Linked DNA regions of Homo sapiens: region 1 is linked to region 2. The links come from fine-mapping of genetic effects on gene expression. Tissue or cell type: whole blood. Region 2 holds a variant in brackets; the other region holds the start of a gene. All regions are shown on one strand. Distances are between the middles of the regions.

Region 1 (5,109 bases), 140 kb after region 2:
ACCCCGAGGGTCCAGCTGCGCTCTACGCGGGGTACTCCCCTCCGGTGTCTTCGGAAGCACTGAAGGGACATCTGGGGACCCTCCCCTGCCCCCCGCCCCCGAAATGTGCTGGGCTTCGCCCACTCGGCCGGGAGCCTGGTTATGTAACCCGCGAAGGGGGCTCCGGACACGGGCTGGCGGGGCAAATGTAGGCCCCAGGAGGAGCCGCTGCGGCGCCCGGCTCGGCGGTAACAGCAGCCCCAGCGGCCGCGGCGGCAGAGCCGGGAAGCCGGAACCGGGGGCCGGCGGCATTTCTAAAGCTGGAGCCGCCCCCGAGCTACCGGGGAAGCTGGAAAGCTGAAATGGAAGGGCTGAGACCCCAGCCGCCCCCGCCGCCCGCCCGCCAGTGCAAGAAGAGGAGGTGGGGGGAGGAGAATCGGGGCTTGGAAGGGGGAGAGGCAGACGGCCCGCCACAAAGCTCGGATCGGAGACCCCAAAACGCACCAGCAGCTGCCTCATCTCCCCACAAGCGCGCGCGCACACTCACTTCCTAAGGAGACTCCCCCACCACTCCCCGCATCCCCCTGCCTCCTCCCTCCACCGCCCAGCGCCCGGCCCCTCAGCCCCCCAGATTCCGGGCGAACCCCGAGCCCGCTCAGCCCCCCTCCACGCCTTTCCCCGATACCACCTCCCCACTTAAGTGTCTGAGACTCTAAGCCTCACAAGGGGCTGGAGGAGTAAGCAGCTTGCTTCCTTTTGCATGCAATTTATTATATTTTTTTCCCGGTCCTCTTGCAAAATACAGAAAAGGAAAGAAAAGGCAGCGAGAAACAACCAAAAAAAAAAAAAAAAAGATCTATCATATGCCAGATACAGATTTGGAAAAAAAAAAAAAAAAAAAAAGCTACACACCAATCTTCTTCCAGAGTCTTTCTCTGCCTCCATTTTTTTAGGAGAGTTCACCAATTAATTGTCAACACTCCTGCCCCCTGCATTTTGGCCGAGGGGGGAAGGAGGGAAGACCAAAGAAAACAAACCAAAAAATAAATAAATAAAGCAAGCCAGAGCCGAGATCTACAAAGTTTTGCACCAACACTTAGGCAGATCCGTTTGCAAAGTCCTAGGAAACCATTTTCAGCAGTTGTGGGGGGGGGGAGGCGTCGACGTCATAATCCCCGGAACGTAAACATTGTTGCCGATCGCGCTCGGAGCCCGCGGCCGGGCTATTTGGGGGGGCTCTCGGCCCGGGCTTGGGGGGGTGGGGGCGGCGGCCCGAGGAGGTATGGGGCGGGGAGGGAGCCCGGGAGGCACCGGGCGCCGTTAGCGCCGTGGCATCGCTGTTTTGTTGTTGGGTCACGAGTGCGCCTCTGCACGCAGGCGCCGCCGCCGCCCGGGAGTTGTGTGCAGAGCTGACTTTTGGAGGGCCGAGTTGCAGGCGGCGGGCGCATCCCGGAGATGGCGGGGCAGGGAGGGAGGGAAGGAGGAGGGGGCGGGGAGGGAGGTGCAGATTTGCACGGCTGGCCTCAGCGGGAGGCGCGGAAATGCAAGCCGAGCATGCTGGCGTGAAAGCCCCCGGGGCCTGGCACCCCCAAAAACGACCCCCCACCTCCGTTCCTGCCCTCATTGCCCAGGGCTACCCCTCTTCCTCTTCTTTCATCCACCCCTCCCCCAACATTACCTGTGTGGCCGACTCAAATTCAAAGCATTTTGTATATATAACTGTTTTCTTTTTTTGCTTTTCTGCTGCATGTCTTTTTCGTGGGGGGTGATCCTCTGCAGATCCCCCCATTTGCGGACCCGCCATGTGGAGGAGGCATTTGGGGGGCTCAGAAGGAAATTAGCTCGGCTTCCATACCTATAAGGACTGCCTAACTTTTAAACTCCCGGCACTCAAAGATGTGGACACACACACGTACAGGAAATACAGCCAGACCAGAGCCTTTGCAGTCCGCAGCTGACCGGAAGACGTTGCCTTTCATTCATTCATTCTGCCCGCCTCTGTGGACTCCTTTACTAGGCGACCAGCCCTGAAACAGAAGTTGGACATTTTTTAAAGGTTCTTGCGCTCGGCAAGGGGAGCAGATAGATGCTCAGGAGCGAAAGACGCAGAGAATTGGATCTGGCGCCTCCTAACGCAGCCCGCACAGGAGCGAAGGGTAAGCCCTTGTTGGTAGTTTATAGAAGACAAGTCGGTGGAAAGGTGCATGGTGCTCTGGGATAGGTGGGGGGAACTCTAGTGCCCTTGATGAAGCCCCTACAGGGCTTCTTAGCGGAGGTATCGGCACCCTCCGTACATACATGGGTGTCATTAGGTCCCTGTCCACTTACTAGTGTTTTTGACTACCCCAGCACTGGTCCTGGGTTGTCTTGTCCTCCCATCATGAGCAACAGTCAGGTCGACTTGGCTTGAGAAAAGCTAGCCCTAAACATTCCTCCAGCCCCAGCTGTGGCGCCCTGCTAGGCCTGATCTTGCGGGTAAAGATGCTGATAAAATGACATGGCAAGAGGGAGACGATAAAGGGACATTGTAGATAGCAGGCTTTGAGCCTGACATTTTATTTCTGCCATAACCCTGTGGGATACTTGGAGCAGGTCATTTTGCAGATAGGGAAACTGAAGCTCAGAGAAATTATGAATCTGAATGATTGCTGTGCTCCCATATGGTCCCCAGGCTATCAGACAGACCTGTGGGGAGGACGTGGCTTCCCCACCAGGAGATACGATGTCACTATCAGCATCGTATTGGCCGTCCTAAGAGACAGCTTCCCCCTCACTCACCTTAGAAGTTTCCTGTCCTATCTGACTGTAGTCTTTCCCACCCATCCTCAAAGGCTACTCTTTGAAGTTTGTTTTCATTCATGTTCACTAGCTGTAAAAATCTTTTAAGCAGGGATGAGGCTGGGAAACATCAAAATTTGTTTCCAAACTGAAATCGCCCACGTTGGCTGCTGCGTGCAATCAGTAGCCCTTCGTGTGAGTGCTGCCGGTTCTGCCTTCAGTCCGTCCAGAACCATGGACCATTTTATTTGTTCCTGTCTTTCTCACAAGAACCCTTTAAGGGAAATCGTCTTGTTCGTTCCCATTTTGCAAAGGAGGAAATTAGGACTAAGAAAAGCAAAGCCACTCACCCAGGATCACATAGCGCGTATGTGCCGCTGCCAGGGCTCACACTGGAGCCTGGCTTGGCCATCACGTGCTTTTTTTTTTTTTTTTTTTTTTTTTAGTAACTTACCAGCCTCACTACTGCCCCATAATGAAATAAACATGTTCAAAGGAGGCTGCATGGGCTGGAGAGTGACGCAAAGTGAATTAAGTGAAATAAAGCAAAAAATATATAATAGAATGCTTCATCTAATTAATTCTTTTTTCTCCCTGAGGCCCTTCTTTCTCTCCAAGTGGCCTCATAGTGGCCCCAAAAGCTGGCATCAGAAAAAGGTCCAATGGCAGCCACCTTAGTATAAAAACAGTTAAGTCCATCTATCACCTCCACGAGGAGTTCCTGGCCTGTCAGAGTGGGAAGGGGCTGGGTAGTCACCTCATTTAATCCCCCCCCTTTACAAACCTCGAGGAAACCGCAAACACGAGAAAAGAATGGGCCAGCCGGGGGTTTGTTCCCCTTGGCCTCCCCCAGAATGCCTGCCCTGCTGCCGGGTCCTAAGTGGCCACTCAATAAATGTTGGGCCCTTGATGAATCACCTTCCCCCTCGATATTTGCATTTTCTCTTTATCAGTAATTGGCAGATGAAAGGCTTTGTCCTCCAGTTGAAAGAATTCCAAGCATTTGCTCAAAGTGGGGGAGGAGGTTATTTTGGACCAAAGGGGGAAGGGCCAAGACCCTGGAGCTCCCAGTGTTGACTAATTGTCCCAGAGAAGTGGAGAGTAGGTAAGGGAAGAGAGAAGGTGAAGGTGCTTACCCCAGAGATGTACTTTTTCTTGCAGGAAAACACCGGGCCGGTTGTATTGGAAACATAATAATAATTATTTCCTGGACCCTCCTGCTCGATCTTACAAAGGGCCCAGTCAAATCCTGCCTGAGTTACCCCCATTCATTCTTCATTCATCAAAGGTTGATTGAGCAACTCTGTGCCCAAAGACAGAGAGGCTAGAGAAAAGAAGATGCAGCGTGGGGCATGCAGATTGGGGCATACTCGAGGCTGGGTAGGACGATGGACCTGCAGCTTCCCAAGGAAAGGGTGGACACTGGATGTAGCTCTCAGAAACCAGAATCTTGATAAGAAATTGAAGTTGTTCTCATATTCATATATGATTATCATAACTCCTGATTTTTCTTTTCTTTTTTTTGAGAGAGGGTCTTGCTCTGTTGCCCAGGCTGGAGTGCAGTGACACAATCTCAGCTCACTGCAACCTCCACCTCCTGGACTCAGCAATGCTCCACCTTAGCCTTCCAAGTAGCTGAGACTACAGGAGTGCACCACCATGCCCAGCTAATTTTTGTATTTTTGGTAGAGACAGGGTTTTGCCGTGTTGCCCAGGCTGGTCTCCAACTCCTAGGCTCAAGTGTTCCTCCCACCTCGGCCTCCCAAAGTGCTGAGATTACAGCCGTAAGCCACCACACCTGGCCCTGTTTTGTTTTAATTTAAGGATATCTAATCATTCCACATCAGCATATGTGGAATGCTATAGCACATCAGCTATAGTTTCCTTATTCTTTCTAATGATTTCATAGCATTTCATTGGGCAGATAAATGGTGCAAGAATGATTTAATTAGTTCCCTAACTTTTAGATGGTTTTCAATCTTTTTCTATTGCAAACAGAGCTATAAGGGATTGCAGCTTTGTGCTTGAGTCTGTCAGTAGAATATATATCTGAAAGTGATCATCCACGTCTCAGGATTCCTACCCTATCACCAACTATTTGTCCTTGAGAAGTTTATTTGTAAGATCTGAGCAGGTGGGACAACCTCATATCCAACTGGTATCCCCAGGAGTCTACGCAGTGCCATGCCCTTGGCAGGCACTCAGAGAGAGTGGTTTAAGGGCTAACACTGCAAGCATTCACACTGTAATCAGATGGCCTCTTCTAGGAAACCTTTGCTGATATCCTTGGCCCCCTTTCCCCATGGACCCTTCATTCATTCCACAAATGTTTGTGGAAGGTTGATTAGGGGG
Region 2 (5,000 bases):
TAGCTCGCTCACCCCACCCCCACAGAAACCCCCAGCCTGGCAACTCACCTGGCCTGTTGTCTGTGGGCGGGGACAGGAGATCCCGCATCTGGGCATCCTTTAGTCCCTCCACCCACTGGACATCCAGGGTCCGGAGCAGCGGACAACTGGAGCTGCAAAGGGCCGAGACCGCGATCCATGAGCAGCCTGACAGCACCAAGTCCCGGAGCCCTGGGGGGACATAGAAAAGGGTGAAGGTCAGGGGATGTGTCCCCAGCCCTCACTGCAGCAGACACACTCGGGGCCACTGGCCCAGGGCTCACCAGGCAGCCGGTTGATGAGCCAGCTCAGCTGCTTCTTGGAGATATTGGTCCAGCTGAGGTCGAGGGAGACGGGCTGTCGCCGGATGATGCCACTCAGCATCAGGGGTGTGATAGACTTGCAGTGGTTCAGGTCAATGCGGGTCCACAACCGCTTATCGCAGCACCTGGGGACCGGCCCCGTGGGGACACATCGTCAGAGGTGGGGCTCCTCTAGGGAGCCCACACACAGCTCTTAACTGTCCCCACCTAACAACCTCTGGGAGGCTCCTTAACTCAGCGCTCTGGACCCTTCTCTATGTAGCACCTATCCTGCCCCCACGCGGGCACCTCCCACCTGCTCTAACAGCCATGGCCTCCACTCTCCATCAAGTATGTATGTATGTATTAAGACGGAGTCTCGCTCTGTTCCCAGGCTGGTGTGTAGTGGTGCAATCTCTGCTCACCACAACCTCCGTCTCCCAGGTTCAAGCTATTCTCCTGCCTCAGCCTCCCGAGTAGCTGGGATTACAGGTGTGCGCCACCACACCCGGCTAATTTTTTTATTTTTAGTAGAAATGAGGTTTCACCTTGTTGGCCAGGCTGGTCTTGAACTCCTGACTTCAAGTGATCCGCCCGCAAAGCGCTAGGATTACAGGCATGAGCCACTGCGCCCGGCCTCCATCAAGTATTTACCATGGGCTTTACAACGCCCTCTACCGGCCGTTCCTCCAAACAACCCCCATGAAGCTGGCGTCATGCCCGTTCATCCAAGAGGGTAAGGCAGAGCTAAGGCCAGAAAGCTGGTAAATATCGGCTGGACTGAAGTTGCAACTCGCAGCCTTGCTGGAAACCTGGACTAACTCTCCGAAGCCAAGGACTCCACGTGGTCCTCACTTCACCCTCCAGGAAGCTAAATCGGAATAAACGGGGTCACCTCCTCTGACAAGACCAGAGGGGCCGCTGTAGCCAGCTGGAACGCTTTGCGGAGCACAATGAAGCCATACTGGGGTTTGGAAGGAAAGAGCATCGCCAGCGACTCCACACACCACGGGCCATCCCTGGTGCCGCCTGAGCCTTAACCTAGAGCCCTACACAGGCCGCCGCTCACCAGCGGTTCCAGGTCCTGCAGACCCGCATGCACACACACAGGTCTTGGTGGCTGAGGTAGCTGAAGACGGCCATCCACACCTCCCTGTGCATGACGTGGGCTGCCCCATCGTCCAGGGGTAGCGAGTCAGGCGGGGGGCTGATGGGGGGTGGCCGGATCACATGGCGCTCCATCTGGATACACTTGGGCGGGGACACGGAGGGTGGGGGCCGGGAGATGACACGGGGCGGGCTGCGCAGGCTGGGCCCCAGCTGGTGCCGCAGCTCCCGGGGGGTGCCGTTGAGCCCCTTGCTGAAGCGGTGGGGACGCTCGCAGATGCCCGGGGGCCGCTTGGGCTCCTCGCCCTCGCTCTCAGGCTCCGACTTGATGGGCTGCTGGTTCTCGTTGGCCAGGCTGTTCTCCGTCCTCTGGATCTCGTGGTTGAGCTCCTTGCTCAGCTCCCTGCTCAGCTCCTTGTTGGGAAGCCGCCGCTTCCGGCGCATCTTCACCTTCTTCTTCTCCTCCGGGCCCTCGGCCCCTTCGGTGCTGGGTCCCGCGGTGGGGGAGCTGGAGCGGGAGTGGTCGCTCTCCCTGGTCTTGGGGGGCGCCTCGGGCAGTTCGTCCTCGGGTTCCTGCTTGAAGCGCCGGAGGGGCTTGTTGGCCAGCGCCATGCGGTCCTCGGCGTTCTTCCAGGACCGCCGCTGAGGGCGAGAGCGGAGACGCGTCAGCCTCTGGGGCTCAGGGCTGCGCCCGCCCAAGGCCTCCCGCCCCCCTGCCACGGGACTGTGGCCCAGGGAGCTGCGGTGCAGCTCTAACCGCTCAGGCCTGGGGCACAGGAGGGAGGGGAAGATGGTACCTTTTTCCTGAAAAGCTTATCTTCTTTGCCAGGTTTGAGCTGTCACGAAAAAGAAAGGACGCAGAGCTTGCTCCCCGGGCTCGTGGGATTTGGTCTCCTCGACACCCCACCCCACCACGAGTCCACAGTCTCCAGAGGAGGGGCTGGAGGGAGGCCTTCCCCACAAATGCCATCTCCACGTCTGACCGACAGACGGGCGAGCCCTGCCTGCAGCTTTCAAGGAAGAAGCTGGAAGTAGGAGTACAGTTGAACTGTTCCCACCCAACTGACCTCCCACCCCACAGACCTGGAGATGTGCAGCCGCCCATTCAAATCATCCTCGGCTCTGGGAGCCAGTTCTGGAGCACAGCCCTGTGGGAATCCCCGGCCCAGCAGGAATGGCTAGAGCTGGGAGAGACTCCTGGCGCCACCTTGTGGCTGGTGACAGC[A/G]CGGCCCGTGGGTGGAGCAGGGCCACCAGGCTCCTCAGAGGTTCCCTGGACTCACAGCTTCCATCCCAACCAACAGAGGCTCTAGGCACAGACAGCTTCCCAGGCCCCAAGCCAGAACCACGAGCCAGAGATCTGGGGCCGAGACCTGGGAAGCCTCAGGAGAGGCAGCAGTGGGGTGGAGGACCAGCGGGGTGGGGTGGGGGACAGCCCAGGACTCGCCAGTCCCCGGGGCCTCAGGAGGGCGTGCGTCGTGGGAGCACCTGCTGCTGGAAGTAAGTGAGACTGGATCTCCACCAGGGGCTGAGGCTGCTGCCTAGAGGGGGCCTCGGCGAGAGGTGAGAGGAGGAACCGGGGGACGTTTGAAGCGATGAGGCCTAAAGGGGGGTGGAGTGGGAAGAGGAGTGACTCGCTGGTTTTCCCCTCCTTTCTTTGGGGCAGGGCTCTCAGGACTTAGGTGACCTGCTCAGGGCAGCAAGAGGCCGGGATTATCCCAAGCTCTACCTGCTGCCCACCCCCTGCCCCATCCCTCCAACCCAGCACCCGGGACCAGCCAGACCAACCCCTTTGCCTCCCAGCCCCTCCTGGTCCGTACCCGCTTGCGTCCACTCAGCTCCTGGGGCTTCTCGTATTTCCGCTTCTTCCTCAGGTGCACGTCGTCAGACTTTCTGCGCAGAAGGCCGTCCGGCGGCACCTTCTTCGAGTGCTCATCCGACCTGCGCCGGGGCGCCTCCTCACACTCACTCCTCCGCTTGGCAGGTTCCTGCCCTTCCTTGTTGTCCCGGTTCATCTTCTGCTCCTTGAGCAGGGAGCCGGGCAGGTTGGAGGCGTACTTAAAGCCAGGGCCACGCTTTTGCTTGTAGGCCAAAAAGAGAGAATGAACAGACCAACTGTATACCTTTGGACTTGCCCTTCCTCCTCCCCAGGCCGACGGCAACCCACCTGCCTGAAACTCCTGGGACAGGCTGGTCCCGGCCAGGCCCAGGCCCGCCCCTCTCCCGACTGACCCTGGGACTTGGAGCCCGGCACTCACTTTCCCGGTCTTGCCGGCGTGGTTACACTTCGGACACTCCCAGCAGTTTGGAAGCTCGTCGTTGACCACACCCTCTGACTCCTTAATCTGCGGGGAACACCAGGACTCAGAAGAGGGACGGGCGGAGAAGATGGCCCACGGGCACAAGGCTCTGTGACGCCACGTCTTCCAGAAGCAGCAGCACCCCCTCCCCAACGTCACATCTATCCCGTTTCCAGGCAAAAGAAAACACAGCTGCAGAGGCTGGCAGAGACGGGCAGCTGTGGATCCAGGCCAGGGTTCAGAGGCTGAGCCCCTTTGCTTCTCTGGGACCCTGGGCAAGACACTCCGTCTCTGTGGGCTGGTGCCCTCGGCCATAAAAGTTAGTGTGCCCATCTCACTGGGGGGGTATGACCCAGGTAAAGCCATGAGCTCAGCGCCTGGCATGCAGAAAGGACTCTGCAGAGGACTCTACTGGGTGCTGGGGGAAGGAGTGTGGTGTGGGGCCTTGTTCTCCCAGAAGCCTGGAGCCACCTGGAGGCGCTTCCTCTGGCCCAGCTACAAACAAGCAGCCTGTGTTTGCCATCTGCTGAGGCTCTGGAAACCCTCTCTGGTTCTGACATCCTGGGAGGTGGGGGTGTGTTTATTCCTTTGATGACACTGGGTCTCTGAGGTACTCCAGGCCCTCCTTGCCCCGGGCTTATCCCTTGACACACAGGATCACCCAGACTCAGGGGTCCTCCAGGAATTCACTGCACGACCTGCATCCCACCATCTCACCAGCATCTCCAGCAACCCTACCTGCCCCAGAGCGTCAGCACCACCTGTCCCCACTGGGCCACTCACCTTAAGGCATCCAGGGTGGATGATTTCATTGCAGATGGAGCACTCCATGAGCATGAGGTTAAACTTGCCTTCCTCCTCTTCCACCGTGTCTTCCTTCCCCGCCTCGCCACACACAAGGCACACGGCGGTGTGGGGCAGCACTGGCTGAGGAGCCAGGGAGAACAAGACAAGTCATCAGGGGTGGGGAGCACGGACCCCCAGGGGGGCCAGTTCAAGGGCAATGAGCTGCTCCCCTTGGGCCTGCCAGGAGACCCCCGGAAAGTGGCCCAGGCACATTCGCTCACTCATTCATTGAAATACGTATCAGGCTACTACCTCCACATGCCAGATACTACTCTTAATTGCTGGGGATACAGCAAGGAACAAGACAGCTCAAAATCTCTGCCATCCAGAGCTTACATTTTAGTGGAGGGAGGCAGACAAAATGGACAGAGCATGTTAGAGACAGAGACATGGGGAAAAATTAGAGGGCTGGAGTGAGGGGCAGAAGGGG

The links. PIP is the estimated chance that this variant, and not a neighbour inherited with it, causes the effect.
Region 1: KDM2B starts here. The variant in region 2 is fine-mapped to the expression of KDM2B in whole blood (TOPMed, PIP 0.99).

The regions. Positions count from the first base shown.
Region 1 is chr12:121,579,129-121,584,237 of GRCh38, forward strand. KDM2B (lysine demethylase 2B) reads right to left here and starts at 1,895. Exons shown (of 23, transcript NM_032590.5): 1 at 1,658-1,895. The coding sequence starts at 1,783. KDM2B-DT (KDM2B divergent transcript) reads left to right here and starts at 1,383. Exons shown (of 4, transcript NR_183427.1): 1 at 1,383-2,135. RefSeq lists silencers at 1-16, 1,176-1,485, 1,566-1,615 and enhancers at 1,185-2,120, 3,056-3,991, 3,992-4,925.
Region 2 is chr12:121,440,768-121,445,767 of GRCh38, forward strand. It overlaps KDM2B (lysine demethylase 2B), which reads right to left. Exons shown (of 23, transcript NM_032590.5): 14 at 4,508-4,651; 15 at 3,683-3,769; 16 at 3,245-3,505; 17 at 2,913-3,026; 18 at 2,225-2,263; 19 at 1,390-2,069; 20 at 303-466; 21 at 49-210. MIR7107 (microRNA 7107) reads right to left here and starts at 3,585; the gene lies at 3,506-3,585. The variant A/G (reference allele first, on the strand shown) is at 2,653.